7 linked regions of the Homo sapiens genome follow. The protein of the gene in region 7 interacts with the protein of the main gene of each other region in a pairwise test. Each region holds a gene or a part of one and is shown on either strand. Other genes may lie near its edges. The genes, in order: LMO1, LMO3, PRKAA2, RIC8A, CCHCR1, FAM161A and NUTM1.

Region 1 (3,500 bases), on a different chromosome or scaffold from region 7:
AGCCAGGGTAGATGGAAGAGAGAGTGGGACAGCTGCTTCACGTGCTGGGGCCTCTCACTGTCTCCCTTCATTTTGGGCTATAATTTAGTGGGCTAGGGTCTCCCCTGAGTACGGAGGTTCCAGCCATTCACCCATGTTCTGGTAATAGCCCAAATATAGAGCCCTGGGAGGGGCTCAGGACCACTGGGAAGGGAGCCAGGCCTGCTGCAAGCCTGGCTGAGCAAAAGGAACGTGAGCCTTGTAGGGGCTGTAGCGGGGGCCTGGCCCAAGATTTTCCCAGTCGGTGTTTGAGTGCGTACCTCTGCTGGCTGCATGCTCCCTGCACAGGGCCTAAGGACAAGGTCATGCCCTTGGAGCCCTACCCTGGTCCAGGTCCCACTCTGGGAGGCCCCTCATTTCCCCATCCAGCTATTTTAACTCCTCTCCCATTTCCCCACACCTCCCTGTAGGCCAGGACTTGGAAGGAGCCTCACAAGACCCCTTCAGTTCTCAGGGGTATCTGCTCCCCAGCTGCCCTCCTTGGGCTCTTTCAGAGCTCTGTGCCAGGCTGGGCCCTGCTAGAAGAGACACAGGCAGGCCCGAGGACAGAGTCATCCTGTGCCCCATCCCTCTCTCAGACCAATTAACCTTTAGAGCTGCATTAAGGAAATTAGGCAGCACACTCACCAGCTAACAGACAGGCCCTGCCGGGACTGCAGGGAGGAGAAGGAGGAGGGAGCCACTGGCCCTGCACACTGTAGCCTGTGGGTGGGCGCCAGCTCCCCAGACTCACCTGTCCAGGAGAAGTCTGAGGAGCCAGCTGGGCTGAGAGCGAGCACAGGAGAGGAGAAGGAGCCCTGGGGCCAGCTTGACGGTGGCTGACTCAAGCCCCTGTAACTGTCTGAGCCTCAATTTCCCCATCTGTAGTATGAGAACATTTAACTGGGAGAACTCTGAGGGCTCTTCTGACCTTACATCTGTGGATTCTGAGACCAAGGCCTCTTGTGGCTTGTTCTCCCCTAACGCCCAAGGAGGAGAGAAGCAAAAGGAAGGGAAGCAGCCCAACCATTCAGACTCTGGGCTGGGGGCAGTGAGGAGGGCTGGGAATGGGAGGGACACCAGGGGATGGGAGGAAGGCCAGAGCCCTGGAGAGAGCAGGGGTCCTTTGGAGAGGACGGGGCCAGTAGAAGGACAGACTCCAGGGGAGTGTTGGAAAGCCGGGGAGGTGGGGAGGGGTGGGCCCCTATCCAGCTGCGCCTTGGTCAGGAACGGAGCATGCACACGCTCCCTGTCTTCACAAGGGTTCTCAGGCAACTGCCACAGGCTCCCGCCCTGTCAAGTCACAGAGCAGGGCTTCTGAGGTCCTCTGCACTTCCCTCCCAGCCTCACGGGTCCACATGGATGTCCAGGCTACTGGACGACATATGTCCCCATCTCCTCCTCAACGGTCCCTGTGGTTCCAGGAGAAGGGACTAGGAACCCGTGCCTCTGTCACTTCATGCCCACACCTGCACGTCGTGCCTGTGTGTGAGGGGTGTGTGTGAGCGCACATGCTCGCCTGCCGCGACGGGAGGCTCTGCCCTGTGGTGAACATCACATTGGGCCCTTTGTACTTGGTGCCTGTGTGTATGTTGGGAAGCTGGTATGGGCCCTGGGAGGGACTGATGGCTGAGAGATCCTAATCCTGGTAGAATGAGGAAGGATCCAGAGGCTCAGAGCCTGCCCTCCCCCAGGCCAGGGCAGGTGAGGTGTGACACCGCCTGAAGCATTCCCAAGGGGAGCCCCAGCCAGGCCCTGCCAGCTGCCTCCGCTTACCTGCCAGGAGCCCCAGAGCCTCTGCTCCCTCCTGGGAGTGTCCCAGGGGCGTCTCACTTCCTTCTTGATGCCATCACAGCTCTACATGGATAGACCAAGAGGCTGTAGCACTTCAGCTGGAGAAAGACGAGTTGGCACAAAGATCTGGGGGTTCTAGAGGACCTCGTGGGCCTGAGGAGACTACATTTCTTAGGCTTATTGCTGAAAGAGCCAATGTGATGGTGGCTTCACAAGACGAGCTTCAGGCTTACTCCGGATGAGACCGCACAGGGGATAGAGGCCATGGTAGGGAGGAACAACTCAGGGAGGCCAGGCCTGGGGTCTGTGTGTGCCTTGGAGCAGAGCAGCCTCTGGAGGGACCTTCACAGGGCCAGGGAAACAGGCTGTGCCATGTAGCCCAAAGGGCAGGACCCGGAGCCAGGGGAGGAGGTTATTGGGGAGAAAGCGAGGGCTCCTGGGAGCCCCAAACCTAGAGGGGGCAGCAGAGAGAAGCAGTGAGCTCCCCATTCTTGGGGGATATTCCTTGAGGCCCAGAGCTACGGGGCCCATCCTGCGTTGCTGTCTGTCTGTCCGTCTGCAGGCGTGCCGATGCTCTCCGTCCAGCCCAAAGGGAAGCAGAAGGGCTGTGCGGGCTGTAACCGCAAGATCAAGGACCGCTATCTGCTGAAGGCATTGGACAAGTACTGGCACGAAGACTGCCTCAAGTGTGCCTGCTGTGACTGCCGCCTGGGCGAGGTGGGCTCCACCCTCTACACCAAGGCCAACCTCATCCTGTGCCGACGCGACTACCTGAGGTGGGCTGCCAAACCCTGGCCTCCCAAGCCCTTGTCCTGCTCAGAAAGCTCCCCATCCTCAGCCCCAGCGTGACTGTGCCCCCGGCCCTAGACCCAGTACCCTGTGTGTCCTCTCATTCTTGACTGTCCTGCCCCTGCCCTGCTTGCCCCAGATACCTGAGAAGTCACCTGAGGGGAAGGCCCAGGTCGTTATGCCCTTGGACTCGGTACCCAGCACAAGTCCAGGGCAGGCATTTGTAACCTGGGGCCCCTAAGTTAAGCTTTCCGAGGGCCCCAGTCTGGCTCCGCCCCCCTGCCTTGGCCAGGTGCTTCTGACCCACCTGATCTGGAATCTGGGAGGGGATACCTCAGAGGGGCTTTGAGAACAGGTGTGGAAGCTTTGACTTCCCCAGGACCCTCCTCCCTAATGCAGTCTCTTTCCATCTCCCAGTGTCCAACTTTCCTTTCTAGATGGTCCTTGGGAGCAGGCATCCATTTGCCCAGGGAAACTGGCAGGCAGCCATATCCTAGGAGCAGGGCCACTGATGCTGGAGCTTCAAGACCTGGGTTGGAACTAGCTGTGAGCCTTTGGCTCCTAATCTTCTCCCAGCCTCAGTTTACTTCCCCGTGAAGGGTGAAAGAATGATGCTTCCCTGCCTTGCATTCCTCTGAGCTCTAACTCACCCTCCCTACAATTTGGATCCTATTCCCTGGGGCCACCTCCCCCAATTAACCCTCCCTGAGGCCATTTATGACATCAGCAAGGCTGGAAGGAGGCCACAAAGCAGGGCCTTGGCTGAGACCCAGCACCTGCATTTGGCTCTGTCGCAGGCTGCTGGATGGTTGCCGGGCTTGTGGGGAAGGAGGGCTCATCGCATTAATTAACAGGTCGGGGCAAGGGCTTCATGGGGCTCCCTCTGCCCAGGTCTGGGC
Region 2 (3,500 bases), on a different chromosome or scaffold from region 7:
ATTAGAGAAATGATATATGGCATCATTGGGATTTTCATATTTAATACAATTTATCATTTTTCTGGTCTGACATTAAGCGATTTATTTGGAATTTTTTCCCTTATGACAAAATTTATCAATCAATGGTAACTCCTTTAGTACCTTGGTCATTTGATGAGGTGTTTTCTAGGGAATTTGGTCGTTCTTAGTATATAATTCAGCTATTTTCAGTCAGATCCAATCTTTAGATATAAAAATATATCATTTGATTAATGGTAGTTACAAGAGGGTGAAAGCGGTACTGTTTATCAGATTCTACTCCTTCTCGCTCTTAGGACGGCCTCATCTGACAGCCTCCTGACTAATTATGGCCACTTGTTACTACTTCTCTGTGTTCCAAGTGCGTAAAACACATGCAAGGTGCCAACAATGAGAAGTCACTCTCTCCAGCCAGGATTTCCCTCATTGTGTTGGCACAACGAATCAAAATTAATGTACAATGTTCATTTTTTTAGAACTCTCCGGTCTTTGAACTTTCCTCTTTGAAATAAAAATTTCTCTTCTGCCCATTGTGAATTAGAGCCTCATTTCCACATAAAGCATTTGTATTTGCTTTTAGTGATTTAATACTGCTTTTTAGTTTTGCTTTATCTGTACTAACCAATAGTCATAGCTTTTTGACTCCTTTTGACTTTTACATTTGTTTGTAATTTCAGTATCTCAAGTGGATTTATGTTACCATTTCAAATAAGGAGTTTATATAGCCCGGGCAATGTTAAGGTGTTTTAATAAACCAAAGGACAAAAATTAAGTAAACTTGAAAGAATGTCAACTGAAATATCTGGGGTTTTTGAAAACAAAAATAAAAATTTGCCAAGGAAATACCTATATTGTGAGTATAACATGCTTCTTAGCTGTCAACATAGCATCGAGCAAAGACAGTAATCTTAGATTTGTTTTGTTTTCTTTTTCCTTGTGGTAGTAAAAATATATTTGATAGTCTCAAGTGTTTTGCTAAAACGCATTTATCAAAAATAGTTTTCATATCAGAAGTTTTTGTATCTCTATAAGAGTGTATGTGGCTTTTTGTAGAATAACTTTCAGTTACCTCCTGATAGGCTCAAACTTTTAATGGTGGTTAACTTATTAAAAGTATATAATATTCTTTCAAATATAAACCCTGGTCCTGATTGCCAATATATTCATTTCTCAGAGTACGATTTCCGCTTAAATTGGTCATTACCACATTAATGGCCAGTTGTTATGTTAACAGCCTAACGGTTGTTAACATTTCAAACTAAGTTGTTAACAGCAATCTTGTCCCTTATTTAAACTGAAAGTTTGTTGTATATAATGTGACTTATTTGGCAACTTCATCAACACTTAAAATTGCAGAAGTGAAGTGGAGAATTGGTGTGTGTAAAACACTGTGTTACGTGTTATAGATTATGCCGCAGATGTGGTATTTAGTTTTATGTGGAAAGCATGTGTCTCAGTGAAATTGTGTAGATGTTCAACTGCATATGTCTCTGATTGGCAAATTAAAATAGTCTGATTCTGTATGGTAAATCAACAAATATAGTCAAGCAGATTTTATTTACAAATTAATTTCTTTGATTAGATACAAATAGTTGTTCAAAAATGTTTATTAAATGCTTACTGTGTGAGAGGTATGATTTCAGGCAATGGGTGAAATTAGCTAAAGGAAAAAGGAAGGTACACCTAAAGTTGCCACTATCTAATTGTTTATTTAATTACATAGAATCTGTAATATAATCAGTGAACAAGTAATATTCTGTGGTTATTTTCCTGAGCTTTAAAAGTAATTTTTCTCATTTTCCTCCAAATTCAGCATACTTCCATTTTGTATTTTATATAACCAATGTTTAATCACTTAAGTTCTATTTTAAAAGTTGTTTTATTTTTGGCCCTTTGATATTATGTAATTTCTCTGAGGCACCAAACTGAACATAAATAACTTACATATTTATATTTCATGTCTAAATTATTAAGAACATAAGTAAGAATAAGGAAAGTAATAAAATAGTAATTTGCCTGTCCACATATATTGTTGGTTACAAGTATTGTCCTGGGCCAGATAATTTTTTACATACAGTGAAAAGTAAAATATTTTTGCCAATTACATTTAGCTTCTTAATACACTTCTCCCTCCATAAACAGAAAGAAAGAAACACTCCTAATTATGAGCAATGAGACTTAAAGATCTGTGTTTTACTTGTGTTACTTTGAGTAGTGATAATGATGATGTGATTTATAAGTTCTTTGAATGATGATTTGAGATATTAAATAATATGAAAATATAATAATTTAGACTGTAAGATATTTTCTTAAGGGTTATAGAAACTATTATTATGGAAAATTTGATGTCTTTCCATTTTTTTTCTCCTTTATGGCACTAGTAGCTATATTTAAGAGAAAAAGAAAGAAAAATCTTCCATAGTTTGTACACTAAGTATCAAATCTTAACAGTGGAATTTTTCACTTTCCAGAACTGGACTGGCATATCATTCATTTAGCTGTGGAACATAAAATGTACATATCTGATGAGACAGAATTTGCCCATTTGTGGGATTGCTTTCCTCCTTTGGAAACTCATTAGCTAAAGAAAGAGAAGGACTGACTTTTTAAAACTTCCTCTAACATGTTTCTGACTGAAATTATGAAATCTACCCAGTCAATATTTATATGCCAGGCAGACCAAGAAATGTATCTGTTAAAAATCTATCCAATGCATTTATAATTATTTTTATTTTTTTGAAGAGTAACTTATGACAAATTAGATATAGAAACATCTTTGTACTTTAAGTTGGAGCTTAAAATTGATATTGTCTAAAGTAGATTAAAAATGACTGTGTAAAAATAGCAAAGTTGTAGTGATAATGTTTAAGGTACTCATCACTGCGATCTATCCGCCTTATTTCAGTTTGAAAAAATATGAATAAAGTAGCCAGCCAGTGCATAATCAGAGTCTTAGAATTAGGAATTCTACATGCTTTTATTTAATGTTTTGCAGCAAGCATTAAATAGAACTAGGAGAAATACCAAAATACTTTCTTTTTCAACTTGAAGGCAATAAAGGATGTCAGAATGTAACTGGAACTCAACTTCTGGGCAATTTTTTTGTTGTTCTTTCTTTGAACCTGCAACTTTTTGTGACGTACTTTAAGCATTAAGTCTATATAGGCTGTATGTATCTTGTATCTCTATGAATGATATCTTGCCAGAGTTTATTCAAAGCTGTTTGCTGTGGTATGTGCCATGGAAGCTGCTTATAGCTTTTCCTATATAAGAAGCTGTAAAATGTCTTATATAAAATTTAATGCAATTTGCTATTTTTATACGTGAGGATGATTTGTTTAAAATGAAACTACTGGGAAAGAGTGATGCTTCATGCTTCACCATAGTTGCTAATTAACTAAAATGATTTGAAGCTTGCTATGCTGACTACAAATTTTATAGGCTTTAATATAATAATATAATAACTCTAAAAGAGAAAATAA
Region 3 (2,261 bases), on a different chromosome or scaffold from region 7:
TTTTGAATAATACGTAGAATTTTGACAAGGTTCATACAGTGCATACAGTGTGACCTTTTCTGAGGTGGGCAGGGAGGGTTGCTACGTTGTGTTGATTTAAAATTTCAAGGAGGAACAAAAACATTCTAGCCAAGGAGAATTGCATTGTTATTTTTTTTTCTACTAATTTAAACGTGCATTTTTCACAGTTACACATTTAAGTTTTGCTACCAAAAATGGCCATTTTTCTAGACAGATAACATTTTCCTAAAGTGGAAGAGAGATCCACTGTTCTAAAAAAAAAAAAAAAAAAAAACACTAAATTGTGCCTTCTCCCTTAAATTATAAGAAGAGTAATAGTAAAAACTTGTTTAAACTATATTTTCTTTTTTTCTAATCCCTCTCAGTTCTCCTTAGATCTGCCTCCTACAAATGATCATGTTGTTTGCATCTGCCTGATTGAGTTCCCTTGGTCAAACCTCTCCCTATCACTATCAGAAGTTGTTCACTAAATGTATTTTCCTATTTCTTTCATGTTGATTGACTTTATAAGTCACCTTGGTAAACATAACATTTGGCTACCTTCTCATGCTTTATAAATGAATTTGATGAATGGCAGTTTTTATATTTTAACCCTTTAAAAAGTTTGTCAAGGAAACAACTCAGAGCTAAGAACAAAATCTAACTTGGAATCAGTTTCTTCCTTTGGCTGCTGAAGCAGCAGCAAGTCACGTAACCTCATTTAGTTTTTTGATTTACAAAATGTGGATAATAACCTACCTCACAGATGTGTGTGAGCAACTGTTTGAAAGCCCTTGTTTAAATACAGGGTTTATATCCCCACATTCAATGTAAATTCCTTTTTTTAAAAAAAATAAGTATCTTTGATACTGATAGGATGAGTATCTTGATTTTTAGGTAAGATCACAGTTTCACAAATTGTGGTGTTGTTAGGTGACATTTAATATTTCTTGAGACCTCAAGTATTCAAATATCAAACTTGTCCTGTGTTGTAACAAATATTCAGAATCTCTTAAAATGTTGGCTGAAGCTGCCTTAATGTACCAAAATACAGCTCTCAAGACTGTTCACAAATATCTGTGGTTGTACAATGTTTTGAACATTTAATGTAAAGTTGTTGTAGAACTGTGAACTCTAAGGATAGTATCTTTATTGTTTTAGGAAGAATGGTTGTGTTCTTTGTCATGTATGCTTAAATATACAGTGGATTTTGAATGCAACAAATAAAACTGAAAACAGCCATTTGGTTGTGTCATGACAATCATAATATAGGATATAATATTTACTTTTTTTCAAAAACATCCTGCATTCATTCATTCTTAGCATACCTTTGAAAAAGAAAAAAAAATCCATAGGTTGATACATTGACCCATTGAAGTACTTCATTACGTATTTATTGAAAATTTTTTTTAATTGTTGAAATTGGGACCACTTTTTATAATTGGTTTCAAGAAAAAAAAATGAACAGACTTCCAGTGCTTTTCTGTTCAAATAAACTCCGATTCAAATTTCAGTTTTGTTTGTTATATACTTTTTGTGAGTGTTAAATGATATGGGAAGGATTTGTCTTTCATTAACCATATGGAAAAGATGTCTTCCTGAATTACATAGCATTTCATAGTTACAGATTCTTCCTAATTAATGTTTGCACCATATGAAACTCATAGGTAACAAACACAAAGGAGAAAAGCAGCCTGTCTGATTGCTTATAAGCTTTTTTCACAAAATCAAATTAAAAGTCTCTGATTCATTTGAAAGCTATTTTTGTTTCTGCTCCATCATTATGCTGGTATTCTGCACACCAACTAATAGTTACAGGAAAGTTGTTAGTGGAAAAGATTGCCTATACTCATTGGTGATTTCACACCATCTTTTTTCATTTTTGTCATCTTAGTTGTACATTATAGTTTTTAACTTGAGTTATTGCATTGGTTTTCTACTGTTGCTGTAACAAATTACTACAAACTTAACGACTTAAAATACAAATTATTTTATTGTTCTATATGTTAGAAACCCAGCAGGCTTAGCTGGTTTTTCTGCCTCAAGTCACACAAGCTGAAAACCAAAGCATTGATAGGGCTGGGCTGTGGAGGAGAATCTGTTTCCAGTTGCATTGAGTTGTTGGCAGAATTTCATTCCATGGTGCTGTAGGATTGAGGTCCCTGTTGCCTTTTTGGCTGTTGGCTAGGAATCATTTAAAGCTTCTAGAGGCCATCATCCCTTGGCCCTTGGCTCCCTTCATCTTCAAAACCAGCAACAAG
Region 4 (2,453 bases), on a different chromosome or scaffold from region 7:
TTACCTGTGCCGCTTCTGGAGGGAGGCCTCTTCCTGCAGTTGCCTTGCCCACCTCACCCCACTGGGAAAATAGGTGGCTTGCCTCCTGTCCTGGAGAGTCACTAATGCATTCCCCACATTCCACCCACTGGGAAACAGCATAAACCCTGTGACCGGGAGGGTGGAGGAGAAGCCGCCTAACCCTATGGAGGGCATGACAGAGGAGCAGAAGGAGCACGAGGCCATGAAGCTGGTGACCATGTTTGACAAGCTCTCCAGGTGTGTGGCATGAGGAGGAGGGGCCTGCAGCTGGGAGAAGGGAGAGCTGACCCACATCCTGTCTTGTGAGCCCCAGGAGGTAGGATCAGAGGAGAGCTTAGGATCCTGGTATTAGGTTGCATTGCTCACGTTTGAAATCACTTGCCCTGGAGGAAATCCCCCAGGGGATGGGTATATTGAGATCAGTATTGTGCCCCTTTTACAGATGATAACTGAGGCCCAGAGAAATTAAGAGACTGTCTAAGGCCGGGCGTGGTAGCTCACGCCTATAATCCCAGCACTTTGGGAGACTGAGGCAGGTAGATCACAAGGTCAGGAGATCGAGACCATCCTGGCCAACATGGTGAAACCCCATCTCTGCTAAAATACAAAAAAAAAGTTAGCTGGGCGTGGTGGTGGGCGCCTGTAGTCCCAGCTGCTCGGGAGGTTGAGGCAGGGGAATCACTTGAACCCAGGAGGCAGAGCTTGCAGTGAGCTGACATTGTGCCACCGCACTCCAGCCTGGCAACAGAGTGAGACTTCGTCTCAAAAAAAAAAAAGAGACTAATGTCGCCAGATTTATTGGAGATGGCCCAGTGTCCAAATTAAGAGCCTGCTTAAGGCCAATTTAGATGTTTAAAATAGGAAACTGCTTAAAGCCAGGAGGCAGCAGTTAGGGTTTGGGCCCAGTTAACAGAAGGTCCAACCAGGCTTCCCCAGTAAATGGGAGCAGCCTACTTGGTAGAGAGGAAGGTAGCAGCCACGGGTGAGTAGGACCCCTGCCTGGCCAACTGGGCCCCTTCCCCAGCCCCACTGCACCTTTCCCCAACAGGAACAGAGTCATCCAGCCAATGGGGATGAGTCCCCGGGGTCATCTTACGTCCCTGCAGGATGCCATGTGCGAGACTATGGAGCAGCAGCTCTCCTCGGACCCTGACTCGGACCCTGACTGAGGATGGCAGCTCTTCTGCTCCCCCATCAGGACTGGTGCTGCTTCCAGAGACTTCCTTGGGGTTGCAACCTGGGGAAGCCACATCCCACTGGATCCACACCCGCCCCCACTTCTCCATCTTAGAAACCCCTTCTCTTGACTCCCGTTCTGTTCATGATTTGCCTCTGGTCCAGTTTCTCATCTCTGGACTGCAACGGTCTTCTTGTGCTAGAACTCAGGCTCAGCCTCGAATTCCACAGACGAAGTACTTTCTTTTGTCTGCGCCAAGAGGAATGTGTTCAGAAGCTGCTGCCTGAGGGCAGGGCCTACCTGGGCACACAGAAGAGCATATGGGAGGGCAGGGGTTTGGGTGTGGGTGCACACAAAGCAAGCACCATCTGGGATTGGCACACTGGCAGAGCCAGTGTGTTGGGGTATGTGCTGCACTTCCCAGGGAGAAAACCTGTCAGAACTTTCCATACGAGTATATCAGAACACACCCTTCCAAGGTATGTATGCTCTGTTGTTCCTGTCCTGTCTTCACTGAGCGCAGGGCTGGAGGCCTCTTAGACATTCTCCTTGGTCCTCGTTCAGCTGCCCACTGTAGTATCCACAGTGCCCGAGTTCTCGCTGGTTTTGGCAATTAAACCTCCTTCCTACTGGTTTAGACTACACTTACAACAAGGAAAATGCCCCTCGTGTGACCATAGATTGAGATTTATACCACATACCACACATAGCCACAGAAACATCATCTTGAAATAAAGAAGAGTTTTGGACAAAAATGTATGTGTAAATTATCAAATAAAGGGGCCAGGCACAGTGGCTCATGCCTGTAATCCCAGCACTTTGGGAGGCCGAGGTGGGTGGATCACTTGAAGCCAGGAGTTCGAGACCAGCCTGGCCAACATAGCAAAACCTTGTCTCTATTACAAATATGCCCATGTGCTAGGTGTGGTGGGACACACCTGTAATCCCAGCTACCCAGGAGAATCGCTTAAACCCGGGAGGCGGAAGTTGCAGTGAGCTGAGATCATAACACCGCACTCCACCCTGAGTGACAGGGCAAGACTCAAAAAATAAAAAAGGAACATTAACTAGGGTTAGAAACTAACTTCATTCTTTTTAGAATTCAACAGTTTTCCTAGGTCACCAATTCCACCTTTTGTTCTTATTAAGGCGCAAAGTCACAGGACCCCCTTCCTGGGAGTCACTGTCATTAAATCTATTGCCGTCAGCTCAGCCCAGGGTAGGCAAGGTTCAAGAATGGGAAGTGCTTTTGTCT
Region 5 (2,932 bases), on a different chromosome or scaffold from region 7:
TTCCCTCTCGACACCTTGCCCGTAGAGTTCCTGCTGCTGGGTCAGCTCCTGCCGCAGACTGGCAGCCTCCTCTGTGCTCTCCTGCTGGCCCTGGCGTGCTACCTCCAGCTGCAGCCCCAAGCTAGCCAGGGACTCCTGGGTCTGCTGCAGCTCCTGCTCCAGCTGCTGGGCCACCTTGCTCAGCTGCTGCCGCTCTGCCTCCCCTAAAAGGAGGGGGTGCTGGGTCAGGCCTCTCCCAGCACCCTAGACACCGGGTTTTTCCTCATCCTCTCCACCCCCTGGCAACCAGGTGTACCTTGCTCCCGAGCCCGGCCCACCTCCTGCTGGATGAGGCGGGCACTCAGCTGCAGTTCTGCATCCAGGCGGTTCCGTTCTTCCCGCAACTGCTGCAACTCAAGGCTCACGTCTGTGACCGGTGGTGGTAGGGGACAGCTGGGACGGGGAAGAGAAAGAGTCAGAAGAAATCACCCAGCTGCCTGATCCCAAAGCCCCCATCCCACCTCAGTCCTCATGGTTTTGGGGGTCCCAGCAGCCAATGCCCTAAAGCCCCATCCACCTCAAAGTGCCCAAACTTCACCTCTCCTGGCGCAGCTGAGCAAGGGCAAGCTTTCGAGCAATCAGGCCTGGAGGGGAAAAAGCAGGGAGAAAAAGAGATGAAGTTTGCATGGGAGAAAGTGGGGACAGGGAGTAAGGGAAAAAGAGATGCAAGGACTGGTGAAAGGAGGAAGGTGAATGGATGTGGGATCAGAGAGAGCTGGGTCAGGAAGAAGAAAGTCCGAGCTGGTGGGGTGGGGGCAGGACGTGGCTCGCAGTTGTCCTACGCACCCCGAATGGTGTGGACCTTGCGGACAGCATAGCTGAGTCGGTTGTTGAGGCTGGGAAGCTGGGCGGCAGCCCCTTCCACCTTAGCCATGGTGGTCTCGAGCCAGATCTGAGAGCTGGAGAGGGCACAAGTCACTGATCCTCCATGCCTCCCCTCATTCCCAAAGGACTTGCTGTGCCTTGTATAGACAACTCCCTCTAATCCTGTCCCATTATACAAGTACAGAACGCACAGCTTCCGTCAATTATCTAAAGGACCCTTGCCCCAAGAATGCATTAAATGACTATCTTTTTAAGCAACCTGTTAAGCTTATTTCTCACAACTGTGTTTTGCTCACTATCGTGTATCAAAGAGTAAAGTTATCCTCTCTGATCAGGGGCAGTGGCTCCTGCCTGTAATCCCAGCACTTTGGGAGGCCGAGGCGGGCGGATCACCTGAAGTCAGGAATTGGAGACTAGCCTGGCCAACATGGTGAAACTCTCTCTACTTAAAAACACAAAAATTAGCCGGGCATGGTGGCTCATGCCTGTAATCCCAGCTACTCCAGAAGCTGAGGCACGAGAATCACTTGAACCTAGGAGGTGGAGGTTCCAGTGAGCCAAGATCGCACCCCTGCCCTCAAGACTGGGTGACAGAGCGAGACTCCATCTCAAAAAAACAAAAGAAAACAAAGTTATCCTCTCCAAGCCCAGGAGTGTCGATCTAGCACCAATGACGGGCAGGTCCACATGCTTTACCAGCTGGCTGTGCCAGAAGTAGGACCAACCTGGCTCATGAAAACTGAGCAGCTTAAACAGGCCCCAGGAGGAGGCCAAGGAGTGTCTGGGGCCGGGCTGGGGTTTCCTCAGGAGAGTCCAGGTCTGCACCCACAGAAAAACACATGATGATGAAGGCTTGCAGCTGCATCCCCAGCAGCACAGCAAAGTTCACTTTGATCTGGAAATTGTTCCAGTAGATGCTTCCAACACCTACCACAGCCCTTATTAAAGTCTCCAATTACCTAGAGACAATCTAATAAACCCAGCAACAATCAGAGTTTGGACTGCTTTAAGCCTGGAGGACTTTCGGCAAATGCATCATTACACAGACCATTTCTGTGATCGCCTGGTACCAAAGTCAAACCCTGTCCACAGTGCATCTTTCTGTTCTCCTGGAGGTAGGGGGCACCCGCGATGGATTGAACCTGGGTGGTAGGTCATTATAACTAGTTTAATTCCGTGCAAGTTTGAAATTTTTCATAATTTTTAAAGCTAAATTAGTCCCTAAGGTACAAATCCAAGAGAAGGAAGTGATGGGCAAGGACTCATCCTGCATCTTAATTTCGCTAAACCAAAAATTATCTTTATCTAAATTAACCCATCAAGAAGAGCCTCACGATAACAATAAACATTTACAAGCCAGAGACTGTGCTAAGAACTACCTGCCGGCCAGGCACGGTGGCTCAAGCCTGTAATCCCAGCACTTTGGGAGGCCGAGGCGGGCGGATCACGAGGTCAGAAGTTTGAGACCAGCCTGGCCAACACAGTGAAACCCTGTCTCTACTAAAAATACAAAAAAGTAGCCGGGTGTGGTGGTGTGCACCTGTAATCCCAGCTACTCAGGAGGCTGAGGCAGGAAAATCGTGTGAACCCGGGAGGCAGAGGTTGCAGTGAGCTGAGATCGTGCCATTGCACTCCAGCCTGGGTGACAGTGCGAGACTCTGTCTCAAAAAAAAAAAAAAAAAAAAAAAGAACTACCTGCCTTGGGTACCTCAGTGTCTAAGGCTGAGGGGAAGTCATCACCAGCACAAAGAAGCTTTGCTGTTTTCTTAGAGGTTTTTCTGAAGGTCATACAACAATTGTAGGTAATGAAACAACTAGGAAGTTGGTAGGAGAGACAAAGGCTGGCAATTGATTTAGAAGGAAACTAACTGGCTTACATTTTAGATGGAATAGTAAGCAAGTTAAGTATATAATAAGCAAGTAAGTATATAGCTTTAAATAAATAGACTAGGCCAGGTGCAGTGGCTCACACCTATAATTCCAGCACTTTGGGAGGCTGAGGTGGGTGGATCACCTGAGGTCAGGAGTTCAAGACCAGCCTGGCCAACATGGTGAAACCCCGTCCCTA
Region 6 (3,500 bases), on a different chromosome or scaffold from region 7:
TCATTCATTGAAAATGAGAATAAATGGAATTGGTGAGAATGGATGATTGTCCCTGTTATAAAGGCTTATTAATTGTCTACCCAGGGTTAACATTTTAGTAGGGGAATGAAAATGGTAAGGCGAAGGTATAATGAATGGTTCTGCAAAGAGCAAGGCAGAAAAATCAATCAAACTATTATGATTCAGATAGGAAATAAAGGTTCCACCTGGCATTTCACCACCAAGGATGGTGAAGGGCAGATCCAAAAATTATTTAGGAAGAAAATTTGACAGGTCTCTCAATGACCAGCTGAATGGGGAGGAACTGGGTACACACAGATATGAAGATGAGAACAGTAGGCCAGGCACGGTGGCTCACTCCTGTAATCCCAGTACTTTGGGAGGCCGAGGCAGGTGGATCACTTGAGGTCAGGAGTTCAGGACCAGCCCGGCCAACATGGTGAAATCCCGTCTCTACTAAAAATACAAAAAAAATTAGCCGGGCATGGTGGTGTGCACCTGTAATCCCAGCTACTCAGGAGACTGAGGCAGGAGAATCACTTGAACCCAGGAGGCAGAGGTTGCAGTGAGCCGAGATCACGCCACTGCACTCCAGCCTGGGTGACAGAGTAAGACCCTGTCTCAAAAAAAAAAAAAAAAAAAAATGAGAACAGTAGACACTGGTCTCAAACTCTTGGCCTCAAATGATCCTCCCCCCCTCAGTTTCCCAAAGTGTTGGGATTACAGGGTGAGTCACTGGCCTAATTTTTCTAATATAAAGATATTTCTGGCTGGATGTGGTGGTTCACATCTGTAATCCCGGAACTTTGAGAGGCTGAGGTGGGCAGATCACAAGGTCAGGAGTTCGAGACCAGCCTGACCAACATGATGAAACTTCGTCTTGACTAAAAATACAAAAAAAATTAGCCAGGCATGGTGGCACGCGCCTGTAATCACAGATACTCAGGAGGCTAAGGCAGGAGAATCACTTGAACCCGGGAGGCGGAGGTTCCAGTGAGCTGAGATCGAGCCACTGCACTCCAGCCTGGGTGACAGAGTGAGACGCCTTCTCAAAAAAAAAAAAAAAAAAAGATATTTCTTAGACAAACAGCACTATAATAAATCATTGCTGCATATGTGTTCAATATTGGTCTTCCCAAATAATACTTCATACTTTCTTTCTTGTATTATAGTATCACCCATAATGATTCCTTTAATTTAGCATTTATTTACTTTCCTTTTTTTTTTCTAGACCTGTTGGAACAAGCCTCGCATGTCACTAACACAAATATTAGTATTCCCAGGTTATGTACCTGCTCCCTGGAATTGAGGTTAACAGAAAAAAATAACATATCAATCTGACCATTCCCCCAACCTCCAAAACAATCATATTCACAATTTTGTCTCAACACACATCTGTAATTGCTGCAATTGTGTGTCTTGAATGACTACATTTGTCTGTCTTGTTTCTATCTGACTTTAAGGGTCTCAAGGGATTTTCTGATATTCAAAAAGCATTTGTTGAGAAGGGGGCAGGAAAACAATATGATAGATAAAAGAATCACATGAAGACAGTCAGATCTGGGTTTGAATCCTGGTTCCCCTTCTTCTGGTTGTATCATCTAAGCCTCAAGATGTCCCTCATCTGTGAAATAAGAACCTCACAGGAGCAGTGTAAAGGTCAGTTAAGACAATGCATATAAAGTGCTTAGTGGAGTGCTTGTCTTTCAGCAACCTCTCAAAAAACATTATAAACCAGCTTCCAAATAGCTTTGTGCAGTCTCCCTCTTAAATGCAAACAGACAACCAAAGATAATCTGAGGAAAGCTTCTAATATGATAGACAAGAGGCTAAAAAAGAGAAAAAGGAACTTGAAGGAAACAGAGACAATATCACCAGTATGCTCAGAGATATAAAAGACAGGCTGGGTGTGGTGGCTCACACTTGGAATCCCGACACTTTGGAAGGCCGAGAAAGGAGGATTTCTTGAGCCCAGGAGCTTAAGACCAGCATGGACAACACAGTAACACCCCTGTCTTTACAAAAAATACAAAAATTAGCCTGGCATGGTAGCTTGTGCCTGTAGTCCTAACTACTTGGGAGGCTGAGGTGGGAAGATTGCCTGAGCCCAAGGGGTTAAAGTTGCAGTGAGCCGAGATCATGCCACTGCACTCCAGCCTGGGACAGAGTAAGACCCTGTCACACACACACAAAAAAAAACCAACAACAACAACAACAAAAAACCAACAACAACAAAAAAAAACGTACTGCACCCATGAAAAATACCAAAGGAATATTTAATAAATGGGAAGCATTCTGGAAATTATGTCATTTTTCATTAGGTAAGCAAAAAATGCAGATTTGGAAGATAAATTTGAGGAAATCTTCCAGAACTAGAATAAAATAACAGTGATTTTAAAAGAAATACAAGAAATGTAGATAAATCCAGGTTAATATCTAACTACTCCCCAGTATAACAGTGAAAAAGTCCTAAGATGTCGTTTATGCCAGAGGCCTAGAGCAGGGGTCCCTACCACGAACTAGGTACGGGTCTGTGGCCTGTTAGGAACCAGGCTGCACAGCAGGAAGTGAGCAGTGGGAGGGCGAGCATTATGGCCTGAGCCCTGCCTCCTACAGCGTTAGATTTTCATAGGAGGGTGACCCCTATCGTGAAGTGCTCATGCCAGGGATCTAGGTTGCATGCTCCTTATGAGAATCTAACGCCTGATGATGTGAGGTGGAACAGTTTCATCCTGAAATGATCCATTTCCCGATCCATCCACCCCACCCCACGCAACCCTGGTCTGTGGAAAAATGGTCTTCCATAAAACCAGTCTCTAGCGCCAAAAAGGTTGAGGACTGCTGGCCTAGAGAGAAACCATTCCAAAGTGGAGCAGGACACTTGTGGGCTCCAGGGGAGGAAAGGAACTGATGAATTACGAATGTGTTTAACTGTTTGAGGGGGATTTTTGAGAGCTAACAGAAAAGCCTAAGAATAATAATGATACATACATTGGTGGGGAATGAGGGAAGGTGGGGGGAGGACCAAACAAAATTAGTAATTATTAACACAAGAAAAAATTTTTTTAAAGGAAATGTGATGGGCCAGGCATGGTGGTTCACGCCTGTAATCCCAGCACTTTGGGAGGCCAATGCAGACGGATCATCAGGTCAGGAGTTCGAGACCAGCCTGACCAACATGGTGAAACCTCGTCTCTACTAAAAAATACAAAAAAATTAGCTAGGCACGGTGGCGCGCACCTGTAATCCCAGCTACTCAGGAGGCTGAGGCAGGAGAATGGCTTGAACCCAGGAGGCAGAGGTTGCAGTGAGCTGAGATTGTGACACTGTACTCCAGCCTGGGTGACAGAGTGAGACTCTGTCTCAAAAAAAAAAAAAAAAAGGAAATGTGATGATAATAATATAGGGCTCAGCTGCTAACATTGTTTACTAAGTTATAACACTGAATTCCGATCTAACTGTGATAGAGCTGACTGGGAAACAGAAAGATGGAAAGACGT
Region 7 (2,460 bases):
CCCACAATAGCTGTGACTAGACGCGCGTCATCACTCTTGGCTAATTTTTTTGGTATCTTTTGTAGAGATGGGTTTTTGCCGTGTTACCCAGGTTGGTCTCAAACTCTTGGGCTCAAGCAATCTGCCCACCTCAGCCTCCCAAAGTGTTGGGTTTATAGGCATGAGCCACCCCACCTGGCCATTCATTTTCTTAAGCTTCCTAAGTTATGACTATAGGGGAAGGAACTATGTGCTGAGCTCCTGAAGTTTCCCTGGAAATACGATTAAGCCACCTGTGACCACCCTCCTGGGTGACATGACTTAGGCAGACTTTGCCCACCTGAGAGCACTTCCTTTCTTGGCCATGCTTGGCTGTCGTCTGGATTTCTGATGGGTCTGGTCTCCTTCTCAGCATTGCCTATGCCTTTCTCACCCTCTGCAGGTTCATGGAGTTTGAGGCTGAGGAGATGCAGATTCAGAACACACAGCTGATGAATGGGTCTCAGGGCCTGTCTCCTGCAACCCCTTTGAAACTTGATCCTCTAGGGCCCCTGGCCTCTGAGGTTTGCCAGCAGCCAGGTGAGGCTACCCAATTTTGACAGGAGCCGTGGGCCAAAGGCTCAAAGGGATGCATACAGAAGCCAGTCACAGATTAGAGAAGGCATAGCCCAGGCTCTGCCACTTTCCCTCTGGAGAGTGGCATTTGATATTCCAAACAGACCACCCCATAGGAGGCTGGGTTCTCAGGTTCCTTTTGCCCTGAACTAGGTATTGATCTTGGTGAAGTAAACTGACTACTCTCACCGAGACTCTAAATTCAGCACATAATACCTCATCTGCCTAAGAAATGGGGACTGGATTAGGGGGTTTCTTGGAATCTCAGGGATTCCAAAATTCCTCATACAGTGATTCTTAGACCCTCTAGGTCCTAAATCTCCCATGGCTGGCGCTTTTTCAGGTTGGCCCAATCCAGCCTGGAACCATTTCAATGTACCCAGATTGCTGAGCTTACAGAGCTGGGAGGCAGAAGCTGTGGTTTCTGTGCTACTTCCCATTCTCCTGTCCATCTCTTACCTTAGTGTACATTCCGAAGGAGGCAGAATCTGTGGTTTCTGTGCTACTTCCCATTCTCCTGTCCATCTCTTCCCTTAGTGTACATTCCGAAGAAGGCAGCCTCCAAGACACGGGCCCCCCGCCGGCGTCAGCGTAAAGCCCAGAGACCTCCTGCTCCTGAGGCACCCAAGGAGATCCCACCAGAAGCTGTGAAGGAGTATGTTGACATCATGGAATGGCTGGTGGGGACTCACTTGGCCACTGGGGAGTCAGATGGAAAACAAGAGGAAGAAGGGCAGCAGCAGGAGGAGGAAGGGATGTATCCAGATCCAGGTCTCCTGAGCTACATCAATGAGCTGTGTTCTCAGAAGGTCTTTGTCTCCAAGGTGAGCTGGGCCTGCACATCTTGTTTCTAGCAGATCCTTGGGGTGGGTACTCCCGGGAACTAATGATCTGGGGTTTGTCCAATGCAGTAGGACTTAGGTTTTATTCTATAACTGAGTAATGTGTGTGCATGCATCATCATGAGAATGTGTGTAGCCGGTGGTGGTCAGTTTACAATACCGGAGGGGTAAGAGGGGAGAGTTGGGGAGCTCTTAGTTTCTTCTGTAAAGCCCCTTGTTTCACAGGTTACCTGCTTACAGACTTACATCGCTTTTCCTTCTGTTATCCAGGTGGAGGCTGTCATTCACCCTCAATTTCTGGCAGATCTGCTGTCCCCAGAAAAACAGAGAGATCCCTTGGCCTTAATTGAGGAGCTAGAGCAAGAAGAAGGACTCACTCTTGCCCAGGTAAAACTGGGGTATAGGAAATATGAGAACGAGAAGCTTGCAAGATTTTATCTAACCCTACACTGTCGTGGGTGATATGGCTCTAGAGATGAACAGCTTCAGGATTGGGCTTCAGGTGCAGAACGAGTAGGTAGAGGGCTATGGAAACACAGGAAATGAGAATGTAAGGGCTCAAAGCATGGGAATAAGGCACAAGAAGGTGGGAAAGAGCTGCAGTATCTGTCTTTGCTACCATCGCTTAAACTACTTGCTTGCCTTCCTTGCCCTGCCCAAATACCGTCTTGTGCCACCCACTCAGCCACCTCTTTCACAACCACGTATAGAACTGACTATTTGTTCATTTCTTTCAGCTGGTCCAGAAGCGACTCATGGCCTTGGAAGAGGAGGAAGATGCAGAGGCGCCTCCAAGTTTCAGTGGCGCTCAGTTGGACTCAAGTCCTTCTGGTTCTGTTGAGGATGAAGATGGGGATGGGCGGCTTCGGCCCTCACCTGGGCTTCAGGGGGCTGGGGGCGCCGCTTGCCTTGGAAAGGTTTCTTCTTCAGGAAAACGGGCAAGAGAAGTGCATGGTGGGCAGGAGCAAGCCCTAGATAGCCCCAGAGGGATGCACAGGGATGGGAACACTCTGCCATCCCCCAG

Evidence for each region.
Region 1: the proteins of NUTM1 (region 7) and LMO1 interact in binary tests that used the Homo sapiens proteins (3 or more experiments, as listed by UniProt).
Region 2: the proteins of NUTM1 (region 7) and LMO3 interact in binary tests that used the Homo sapiens proteins (3 or more experiments, as listed by UniProt).
Region 3: the proteins of NUTM1 (region 7) and PRKAA2 interact in binary tests that used the Homo sapiens proteins (3 or more experiments, as listed by UniProt).
Region 4: the proteins of NUTM1 (region 7) and RIC8A interact in binary tests that used the Homo sapiens proteins (3 or more experiments, as listed by UniProt).
Region 5: the proteins of NUTM1 (region 7) and CCHCR1 interact in binary tests that used the Homo sapiens proteins (3 or more experiments, as listed by UniProt).
Region 6: the proteins of NUTM1 (region 7) and FAM161A interact in binary tests that used the Homo sapiens proteins (3 or more experiments, as listed by UniProt).

Annotation. Positions count from the first base shown.
Region 1 is NC_000011.10:8,229,379-8,232,878, reverse strand, and holds part of LMO1 (rhombotin-1), read left to right. Parts: exon of another isoform or gene 1-7; intron 8-772; exon of another isoform or gene 773-900; intron 901-1,794; exon of another isoform or gene 1,795-1,910; intron 1,911-2,374; coding exon 2,375-2,588; intron 2,589-2,600; exon of another isoform or gene 2,601-3,318; coding exon of another isoform or gene 3,319-3,455; intron 3,456-3,500. UniProt on the Homo sapiens protein: May be involved in gene regulation within neural lineage cells potentially by direct DNA binding or by binding to other transcription factors.
Region 2 is NC_000012.12:16,596,163-16,599,662, reverse strand, and holds part of LMO3 (LIM domain only protein 3), read left to right. Parts: intron 1-695; coding exon of another isoform or gene 696-768; exon of another isoform or gene 769-871; intron 872-3,500.
Region 3 is NC_000001.11:56,713,575-56,715,835, forward strand, and holds the end of PRKAA2 (5'-AMP-activated protein kinase catalytic subunit alpha-2), read left to right. Parts: 3' UTR 1-1,761; downstream 1,762-2,261. UniProt on the Homo sapiens protein: Catalytic subunit of AMP-activated protein kinase (AMPK), an energy sensor protein kinase that plays a key role in regulating cellular energy metabolism.
Region 4 is NC_000011.10:213,161-215,613, forward strand, and holds the end of RIC8A (chaperone Ric-8A), read left to right. Parts: intron 1-138; coding exon 139-258; intron 259-1,069; coding exon 1,070-1,190; 3' UTR 1,191-1,953; downstream 1,954-2,453.
Region 5 is NC_000006.12:31,144,871-31,147,802, forward strand, and holds part of CCHCR1 (coiled-coil alpha-helical rod protein 1), read right to left. Parts: intron 939-2,932; coding exon 826-938; intron 624-825; coding exon 578-623; intron 433-577; coding exon 296-432; intron 204-295; coding exon 15-203; intron 1-14. UniProt on the Homo sapiens protein: May be a regulator of keratinocyte proliferation or differentiation.
Region 6 is NC_000002.12:61,830,061-61,833,560, forward strand, and holds part of FAM161A (protein FAM161A), read right to left. Parts: intron 1-3,500. UniProt on the Homo sapiens protein: Involved in ciliogenesis.
Region 7 is NC_000015.10:34,353,315-34,355,774, forward strand, and holds part of NUTM1 (NUT family member 1), read left to right. Parts: intron 1-421; coding exon 422-558; intron 559-1,131; coding exon 1,132-1,418; intron 1,419-1,706; coding exon 1,707-1,823; intron 1,824-2,173; coding exon 2,174-2,460. UniProt on the Homo sapiens protein: Plays a role in the regulation of proliferation. Regulates TERT expression by modulating SP1 binding to TERT promoter binding sites.